2 separate regions of the Homo sapiens genome follow, and region 1 is linked to region 2. Evidence: fine-mapped expression QTL. A gene starts in region 2. The other region holds a variant in brackets. All regions are shown on one strand. Distances are between the middles of the regions. Region 1 overlaps PKD2L1 (polycystin 2 like 1, transient receptor potential cation channel). Region 2 holds the start of PKD2L1 (polycystin 2 like 1, transient receptor potential cation channel).

Evidence for each region. PIP is the estimated chance that this variant, and not a neighbour inherited with it, causes the effect.
Region 1: its variant is fine-mapped to the expression of PKD2L1 in whole blood (TOPMed, PIP above 0.99).

What each region holds. Positions count from the first base shown.
Region 1 is chr10:100,289,255-100,294,254 of GRCh38, reverse strand. PKD2L1 (polycystin 2 like 1, transient receptor potential cation channel) reads left to right here. Exons shown (of 16, transcript NM_016112.3): 10 at 876-974; 11 at 1,186-1,307; 12 at 2,828-2,954; 13 at 3,736-3,854; 14 at 4,117-4,240. Among named protein-coding and RNA genes, the nearest start is that of BLOC1S2, 5.1 kb to the right of the region's middle. The variant C/A (reference allele first, on the strand shown) is at 2,768.
Region 2 is chr10:100,328,106-100,333,597 of GRCh38, reverse strand. PKD2L1 (polycystin 2 like 1, transient receptor potential cation channel) reads left to right here and starts at 3,370. Exons shown (of 16, transcript NM_016112.3): 1 at 3,370-3,729; 2 at 4,274-4,387. The coding sequence starts at 3,495.

The DNA.
Region 1 (5,000 bases), 39 kb after region 2:
AGTAGCTGCACCTGGAAGCGTCTACGACCGTCCTCCAAGACTCCCCTTCCTCTGGGGATCTCATGCTGATTTCTACTGCCACTACTTGGTAGTTCTCTCTCCCTGCCAACCATGAAAAATCTGGGTTATTATTTATTTATTTTAGACAGGGTCTCACTCTGTCACCCAGGCTGGAGTGCAGTGGTGCAATCTCAGCTCACTGCAACCTCCACCTCCCGAGCTCAAACTATCCTCCCACTTTAGCTTCCTGAGTAGATAGGACCACTGGTATGGTCAGGAGCCACCACACCCCGCTAATTTTTGTATCTTTTGTAGAGACAGTGTTTTGCTATGTTGCCCAGGCTGGTCTCTAACTCCTGGACTCAAGCAATCTGCCTGCCTTGGCCTCCCAAAGTGCTGGATTACAGGTGTAGGCCAGTGTGCCCAGCTCTTGGATTTTATTTTTACTAACAAGGCCAGCAATTTTCTTTATTTGATCAATGGATGGGGATACAGATATGGATTGGGGGGTAGATGAAAAAGAGATCACAATTGTACTCTCACCCTGAAAAGCCTCTAGTTCCAATGATTGATGGGCCCTTATACAAAGGAGGTCTGTGGCATATGTTATTGTATCTCTGTGGTCAGAAAGGTTACTACAGCAACTGAGAGTGAGGACACCAGGTTGGTCAAGAAGCATGATCCATCTCTAACAGAACTGTGCTGAAAGGCTGGGCTCTGGGGACCCTGAGAGGCAGGGATTGATGGGCTGCCGAACTGGGGTTGAGAGCACTGACCCCTTTGGAACACGTGTCTTGGACATTAATGGGGTCAGTGGGCTCAATCCTTTCAGTGGGTCTGGGGGTGAGGACCCAGGTCCCCACTTCATTTTCCAGAACATGTTCCTGGCCATCATCAATGACACATATTCAGAGGTCAAGGAGGAGCTGGCTGGACAGAAGGATGAGCTGCAACTTTCTGACCTCCTGAAACAGGTGATTGCTCAATCTCCTTGAGCTACACATTTCCATCAGTGCCCCAGTCTAAGGCTCTGTGTCCTGGTCTGTTCCTGACTGATTGAGGTGCCTGTGCCCTTGTGTGCCTTTAAATTTATCCTTGGAAGCCTGGCATACTATGGGTGGGGCTGGGGGCCAGGGATGAGTGAGCAGCCTGTGAGAACTTGTGCCTATTTCCTTTCCCTTTCAGGGCTACAACAAGACCCTACTAAGACTGCGTCTGAGGAAGGAGAGGGTTTCGGATGTGCAGAAGGTCCTGCAGGGTGGGGAGCAGGAGATCCAGTTTGAGGATTTCACCAACACCTTAAGGGAGTGAGCAACCAGAGACCCAGCCTTCTCTAATAACAGTCTCTTAAGTCCTCAACCCTCAACCATACTTCATTTGCTTATAAGCCTTTGGTTTTAGTTTAGGGGCCTCTGATCTTGACTTGCAGGCTTCAGATCTTTGCCCGTAGGTCTCCGCTCCTGACCTTCAGAACTGTGCCCTTGGTTTAAAAATCTCTGACCGTGGTTTATAACATCCTGGATCTTGTTGAACAACTCTTAGGAAACAATGTAATAATTCCCTAATCATTGAATACACACCCCACTCCCACAAAACTCTGATTTTTGTTCTATGCTTCCCCACAAACACTCATCTATTCCTTTAGCCATTCACTCCCTGATTCCCAGTCAAACATATTAATACACATTGAACAAATACATTGTGAGCACCAGCTGCAGATCAGGCACTGAGTAATAGACAACATAATTTTTTTTTTTTTTTTGAGACAAAGTCCTGCTCTGTTGCCCAGGCTGGAGTGCAGTTGCACAATCTCGGCTCACTGCAACCTCAGCTTCCCCGGGGTCAAGCAATTCTCATGCCTCAGCCTCCTGAGTAGCTGGGACTACAGTCATGTGCCACCACGCCCGGCTAATTTTTGTATTTTTGGTAGAGATGGGATTTTGCCATGTTGGCCAGGCTGGTCTCAAACTCCTGGCCTCAAGTGATCCACCCACCTCAGCCTCCCAAAGTGCTGGGATTAGGAGACAACGTAATTAAATGGGACAAAGTCTTTGTTTTCTAAGAGCTCATAGACTTGCAAATAAACTGAATCACAGAATAAGTTCAACAGAAGTGACTAGGAGTAGAGGGTGATCAATTCTATCTCTGAGCTTAAGGGAAGGCTTCCTGGAAGAGGTAATGTCTAAATAGGATATTGGAGGATGAATAGCTCACAAGTGGACAAGCAGAGGAAGGCTCTTCCAAGAAGAGATGAAAGCACATACAAAAGCATAGAGGTCTGAAACCAAGCAACATACACAGGAGGAATAAGTAGTTGAGCATTGCTAAGTATTAAATAAAGGGGCGGGGACAGGTGGTGGTCATAGCAGGAGATGAGACCAGAGAAACAGGCAAGGACCACACTGAGAAAGGCCACACTACCACTCTGCCAAAAGAATAGGGTGCCAGAAGGGATTTCAAGAAGGCACATTTTTAGATCTGCATATTAGAAAGGTTAATTACTCTAGTTGTATTATGGAGGATGGATTTCAGGGGTAGGGAGTAAAGGGGAAGCTGGGGGATAGCAGGTTATTTAGAGGCAAACAGATTTTGCAATAATCCCTGTAGGAGGTCATGAGGCCCTGAACCTGGTGAGCAGGAGTCAGGAGAGGAAGAAGAAACTGAACTGAACTGAGTGTTTTCCTGGGGGTAAGATTGCTAGACTTTGGAGAACCTTCTTTACCAGAAGCAAAACTTTTGCCAGAGTCAAGCAAAAGAGTGAGGAAGT[C/A]CATAACTGAGAGGTCACAGCCACAGCTGGGCAGAAATCATTTCATCATCCTCTTCTCAGACTGGGACACGCAGAGCATGAAATCACTGAGCTCACGGCCACCTTCACCAAGTTTGACAGAGATGGGAATCGTATTCTGGATGAGAAGGAACAGGAAAAAATGCGACAGGACCTGGAGGAAGAGAGGGTGAGCTGGGCTGATGGGTGGAGAGGCAGTGTAAGGAAATAGCTCACCCTCTCCTTCCCCCAACATACCTAGAACACAAACCCACCTGAAAACTCTCCCATAGATAGTAAAGAACTCTCTAGAATAGTAGTTCCCAAACTGCTGCACATTAGAATACCCTGGGGGGCCTTTAAAAATCTTCATACTCAGGACACACACTCTAGACCAATTAAACCAGAATCTCTGGGTGTGGGGCCTAGACATCAGTACTTTTTATAACTCCTTAGGTGATTCCAATACATAGCCAAGGTTGAGAATCATGCTCTAAAACACAGGCTTAGGGAAAAATGACCAACTGCCCAAGAATCACTGATAATTCCCTCAGAGGACTTGCCTTCTCTTGGGAATTTTCAGACTTGGATTCTTGGCTGTCCCTACTGTGCCTGCTCCATCCCTATCCAGTGTGGACCAAAAAAAGTCAAAGGCAGGGTGACAGCAGCCTAGAAAGTGCCAAGAACACTGGTAGTGTCCCTCCTCTGCTAAAATGAGTTGGCCTCTAGTAAATACCTCATCCATCAAGCCTTCTAGGATCTTGTGTTTTCTTTGAGAGGTGACTCCTCCAGAGGTTGGTCCAGCACCACCACCCTGACCCTATTGTCTCCAGAGTCTGGGAGGGAAGGGGAATAGCAAGAACTAGGACCTGAGCCTTGGTCCTGAGATCCCAGTAGAGTAGGTGATAGAACAGGAGCTGATGGCTTCCCAGAGTTATCTCCTCCCCTCTAACCTCTGACTTCCTGAGCAGGTGGCCCTCAACACTGAGATTGAGAAACTAGGCCGATCTATTGTGAGCAGCCCACAAGGCAAATCGGGTCCAGAGGCTGCCAGAGCAGGAGGCTGGGTTTCAGGAGAAGAATTCTACATGTACGTGCAGCCAAGAAAGGCTGGTTCAGGGCTGGCAACACTTCTATTACGATACCCTGTCTTGTACTTTTCCCACAACTTTCCAATTCTCTGTCCTACCCCAGGGAGAACCTCCGCTCCCCTTTAATTCTGCCTACAAGGCTGGGTCTTCCCTTCCTTGTTCCATTCAGGACACATGCCCTTCTGTGAACCCTGGCTCTTTAGACATCCAGCCCCCAGACACAGATTTCTGCTCCATTCGTCTCTCTCAAATCCCACACAGGCTCACAAGGAGAGTTCTGCAGCTGGAGACTGTCCTGGAAGGAGTAGTGTCCCAGATTGATGCTGTAGGCTCAAAGCTGAAAATGCTGGAGAGGAAGGGGTGGCTGGCTCCCTCCCCAGGCGTGGTGAGTGGCCCTTCACCTGGTCCTCCTAGTTCCTCACAGCTGAACTCTGCCATCTTTTCCACTCAGTGGGTGGGGCAAGAACATTTTTGAAAGACCTATGTTTTCAGGCTCCTGGGGAAACATGTTCATAGCGGTTAGTGTATCAGCAGAGATGGGTCATGGAGATAAGGCCTGGAAGTTGCTTGCCCTGGCCTAAGGGCTGCCTTGGCCACATGAGATGGTCTGTGTCAGTCTGTTTGGGCTGATATAATAAATTATCATAGACTGGGTGGCTTATAAGCAACACAAATTTGTTCCTCACAGTTTGGGAGGCTGGGAAGTCTAAGATCAAGGTGCCAGTAGATTCAGTATCTGTTGAGGGCCCACTTCCTGATTCATAGAGAGCTGTCTTCTTGCTGTGCCCTTTCATGGTGGAAGGGGTAAGGGAAGTCTCCTTTATTTTATTTTTTTATTTTATTTATTATTATTATTATTTGAGATGGAATTTTACTCTTGTTGGCCAGGCTGGAGTGCAATGGCACGATCTCGGCTCACTGCAACCTCCGCCTCCTGAGTTCAAGTGATTCTCCTGCCTCAGCCTCCCAAGTAGCTGGGATTACAGGCATGTGCCACCATACCCAGCTAATTTTGTATTTTTAGTACAGATGGGGTTTCTCCATATTGGTCAGGCTGGTCTCGAACTCCTGACCTCAGGTGATCCACCCACCTCGTCCTCCCAAAGTGCTGGAATTACAGGCGTGAGCCCACTCATAAGGGCTAC
Region 2 (5,492 bases):
TTAAACATAGGCTATGAATTAATAAAATAAATTCAATCACCTTTTGGTAAAGGAAGCATGAAAAGATTGACTACTCATTTCTTTATGGATGAAAAATTAGCATGGATGAGTGCCCCAAATGAAAAAGAACCCTTCCTTTTCTTCTTATTTTGTCATTTCCTTCCCACTGACTTGGTCAGAAGCCACCTCCTTTTGTTCTTCAACCACTCTGAATAGCTGGTAGTTTCCATGGTCTCTGAAGGGATTCACGCACACCACAGTTCTCGGCGGCAATAGGGACCACCAGAGGTCCTCACCCTCGTTATGCAACCTCAGGCCTTCCCCCTCCTCTGTTTTCTCCCAACTGCACTAAGGGCCAGTCTTCTACAACCCTAGGGGCATCACAGACATCTTCAGAGCCCCAAGACCCCACCTATCATTCCTATGCTTAGAAGGAACCTCTTCTTTTCCAAACCTTCCCATCCAAACCTGATGGGGCTCTTCCTTCCCAAACCTCGCCCATCCATCAAGATCTAGCTTCTGTTTCATTTCCTCCAGAGGAAGCTTCCTTTTCCCCTAAACTTCATAATGTTTAGTGTCTATACCATTAAAATAGGCTACCTCACATTATTCATGCCTCCATTTGCTGCTGCTGCTTTTTTTTTTTTTTTTTTTTGAAACAAGCTCTTTCTCTGTCACCAAGGCTGGAGTGCAATGGCATGAACACGGCTCACTGCAGCCCTGACCTCCCGGGCTCAAGCAATCCTCCTGCCTCAGCCTCCTGTGTATTTGGGATCACAGACATGCATTACCATGCCCAGCTAATTTTTTGATTTTTTTGTAGAGACAGGGTCTCACTTTGTTGCCCAGGCTGGTCTTGAACTCCTAGTCTCAAGCTCGGCCTCCCAAAGTGCTGATGTTAGCCACTGTGCCTGGCCCATTTGCTCCATTTTTTAAAGTTTTATTTTATTTTTAATTGATAAATAATAATTCTATATACTTATGAGGTACAATGTGACATTTTGATACATGTATACATTGTGGAGTGATCAAATCAGGTGAATTAGCATATTCATTACTTCAAATATTTATCATTTCTTTGTAGTAAGAACTTTTTAAATCCTCTCTGTTAGCTATTTTGAAGTACACAGTACCTCATTATCAACTGTAGTCACCACACTGTGCAACAGAACAACAGAACATATTTCTCTTGCCTGATTGAAAGCTTTTATCCATCGACCACTCTCTTCCCCTCTCACACACCCCTCACCCCCAGCCTCTGGTAACCACCATTCTACTCTCTACTTCTACGAGTTCAATTTTTTTAGTTTCCACATATAAGTGAGAGCATAGGGCATCTGTCTCATTATGCCTGGCTTATTTCACTTAACATAATGTTCTCTAGGTTTATCTATGTTGTCGTAAATGACAGAATTTTCTGTGTTTTTTTTTTCAAGGCTGAATATATTATATTGTGCATATATACCACATCTTTTAAATCCTTTCGTCAGTTGATGGATACTTAGATTGTTTCCATATCTTGGCTATTATTAATAATCCTGCAATGAACATGGGAGAGGAGACATCTATTCAACACACTGATTTCAATTCCTTTGAGATTCTTGGAACATATGGTAATTCTATTTTTAGTTTTTTGAGGAACCTCCATACTGTTTTCCAAGATGTCCGTACTAATTTACAATACAGCCAAGCATACAAGGGGCCCCTTTTCTCCACAGCCTTGCCAACACTTGTTATCTTTCTTTCTTTCTTTTTTCTTGAGACAGGGTCTTGCTCTGTTGCTCAGGCTGGAGTGCAGTGGTGTGATTTCAGCTGACTGCAGCCTCAACGCCTCAGCCTCCCCAGCTCAAGTGGTTCTCCCACCCCAGCCACCTGAGTAGCAGCTGGGACTACATGCACGCACCCCATGCCTGGCTAATTTTTGTTGTTTTGTTGTTGTTTTGTAGAGGCGGTGTTTCACCATGTTGCCCGGGCTGGTCTTGAACTCCTGAGCTCAAGTGATCCTCCTGCCCTGGCCTCCCAAAGTGCTGGAATTACAGGTGTGGGCAACCACACCCAGCCAAGATCTCTTTATAGGGACACTCAAGACTGATTATTTTGACAAGGCTGATGTTTTGCTGAATGTGAAGGTGGGCTTCAGGCCAGTGAGTAGCCCTGGGTGGGGAGCCAGGAGTTAGGAGAGGAAAGTCTCTGCTCTAGCCTCAAGGAGGAGAAACTGCAGGGTGACCACCACAACCTGTGGGATCAGCCCCATTCTGGGGCATCATGCATGCCTATAGGGGAGCTGGAGCAGGTGATCAGAAGCTGGAGCAGGGCATAGGCAGGGATGTGCTTGGGGGCCCATGACACAGTTTTAATTCAGAGACCTGCAGTTATAAAGAAAGCAGATTAATCCTGATATCATGGATAGTTCCACTTTGTGCTCAAGTTTACGATTCTAGGCCCAGGACTAAGCAGAGCCATGGGAAAAGGTTCCCAGCTCAGCTGGGTCCAGATATCCACTCCCCTTTAGTCCCACATCATACTGTCCTTGTCCTTTGTTCTCCGATCCAGCCTCCCAACCAGGTCTTAGCCTTTTTCCCATACTGAGCCCCACACCCTTAAGGAACCCCCTCTCTTGGTGTATCTCACCTGTAAGCCATGGAAAGGCAAGCTTCAGAACAAGGAATATAGACAACCTAGGACTCTGTGGTCCTCTCCCCTGCCCCCTCAGTGCCCTGAAGTATGTGAGACTGGGGTTCCTCCTGCCACTGTCCTTTCCCCACGGCTGAGAGGGTGAAGTGAGGGAAGGGAGCTGCCCATCTCTGCTCCACCAGGGGACAGCTGAAGGTGAGACAGGACAGGAGCCTCAGACCCATTGACTGAACCTGGGAGGTGGGCAGAGCCTGGGAGGGGGACAGCGCTCTTCAGCTTTCCTCCCAGCCTTGGTCCCCACCCCAATCCATGTCGGCCCTTTTAGGAGCTTTTAGTGGAAATGAGCTCAGACCCGCAGCACAGGCCCCCGGCTCCCCTCCTGTCTCAGCTCCTCCCATTGCTCTTTGATCGTCTCTTCTGTCCGACCTCTGGGCCATCTCTCCACCAGGCACATCTGCGAGCAGCCCCCTTCATCCCCAGCATCGCCTTTTCCTCCCGTTTCTCCTTCCACTCCCAGCTCCACATCCTCCTCCTATTCTCCCCTCTCCCCTCTTCAAACCCCCACCTTCCAGTTCCCTCACCTCCCCTTTCGGCTGGTCCCCTGGGGCTTGCAGCAAGAGGGAGAGAGAGCTCCTGACAGGATTGATGGTCCTTCCCCACCCTGTCCTCTCATCCGCTCCCTCCCCAGCAGGCACAGACATCCCCCTACAAAAGGCAGGAGCCCAGGCTGTGTGGAAACAGCTGCTCTCAGACGCCTTTCCATTTGCTCTCTGCTGGCTAGGCTGGGCTGTGCCTCTGCTCCCTCTTCCTCTAGCTGAGAGTGGGCACCTGGGGTACCGGGCCCCCCCACCTCATTCCCCATGAATGCTGTGGGAAGTCCTGAGGGGCAGGAGCTGCAAAAGCTGGGGAGTGGAGCCTGGGACAACCCCGCCTACAGTGGTCCCCCTTCCCCACACGGGACGCTGAGAGTCTGCACCATCTCCAGCACGGGGCCTCTCCAGCCCCAACCCAAGAAGCCTGAAGATGAACCCCAGGAGACGGCATACAGGACCCAGGTGTCCAGCTGCTGCCTCCATATCTGTCAAGGCATCAGAGGTACCAGATAGGGGGACAGTTCTCCTGGGATATTAGAATCAGGAGGAGTCACCAAAAGCTTTTGGGCAGGGGGTGGGGGTGGAATGTGATCTGAAGAAGAGGTGACCTTTCGGTGTCACTTTGGGGTGTATGAATTGCCCATGGTAGTGCTGCATGACCCAGAACACAGAGGCCAGCTGAGCGGTCTACCGGTTGTGGGAGCCTGGCATGGTCATCACCTGGGGATCCAGAGAGGTATGTGGGAGCTGGTTTGAGGGAGGACATGGATGTGATGATGCCCTAGACTACCCCACCTGGAACAGGTGCCTCCTTTCCATGCCTTCATTCTCTACAAGCCAGGGCCTTCACCCCTGTCGACCTCAGGGAGCTGATGGGAAGAGCAAGCATGGGTGTGGGTACAGTAGCCAGATTCAGCCAAGGATGAAGGTGATGGGCAAGGAAGGGCAGGGGTGGAAAGGGGCTAAAGTCCAGAGACAGATGGGTGGGGATGACTGGGAGGAACACTGCCACTGAGCATCCCAGGCATCTCTCCCATGCCCCTTAGGACTTTGGGGAACAACCCTGACTGAGAACACAGCTGAGAACCGGGAACTTTATATCAAGACCACCCTGAGGGAGCTGTTGGTATATATTGTGTTCCTGGTGGACATCTGTCTACGTGAGTAGCATCTGTGTTTGTGTACATCTGTCTGTGAGAAACATCTATGTGTGCACTATATGTATAAACATTCCTGTGGGCAACATCTGTGGAGCGAGCATCTATCTGTGTAAGCAGGCTATATCCGGGAACTTTAGATAACAATATTCCAATCCCATCTATTTACCTTTGCAGCTTAAGATATTTTGTTTAAAAGGAATTTGTCAGTAGAGGAAGGCAGTTTGGTCAAGAATTACAAGGGGAAACCAGTTTTTGGCAGCCATTGTTTTCTATTGGCTGAAAAGGTGAAAGGTGAAAATATTTTACCCTTCTGTAGAGAGTGGGCTGGCACGGTGGCTCACGCCTGTAATCCCAGCACTTTGGGAGGCCGAAGTGGGCACATCACCTGAGGTCAGGAGTTTTGAGACCAGCTTGGCCAACATGGCGAAACCCTGTCTCTACTAAAAATACAAAAATTAGCTGGGTGGCAGGTGCCTGTAATCCCAGCTACTCAGGAGGCTGAGGCAGGAGAATCGCTTAAACCCAGGAGCAGAGGTTGCAGTGAGCCAAGATCGTGCCACTACACTCCAGCCTGGGGGACAGAGCAAGACTCTGTCTCTCTGTCTCCAAAAAAAAAAAAGAGTGGAAAACCACTCCCTTCTGTTTGGAAAGATAGTTTGGTGGGCTTCACGTAGTTATTATACTATATCCGATGCATGTTTCTTTAGAGGCAGAGAAAAAGATGGAAGAAAAAAGAGAGGAAGTAAAAGATCCAGGCGACCTTAGATCTCAGATCCCTGTTAAGAGAGGGAGGGAAACACATGGTATGGTGATGGTCCCATGTGAGAGACCACCATGTCACATGCCATTGGAGGAAGCTTATTGAGGCTCTAGCTATAGACACAAACTGAGAAATTTTGATCTCTAAGTTGAGAGAAGCAAGTGAAAAGATAGGAGGGCGACTGTGGGAAGATAGAGTCAAAGAACCGTAAATAATAATAAAATTGGACCAAACAGATGCTATTAGACTTGTAGGTAATGACAGCAACTTTGTATTTGGTTTATTACTTCTTTCAAAAGTTGCACAAGTGATGTTTGCCTAGTTTAATATAGTTGTGTGTGGGGT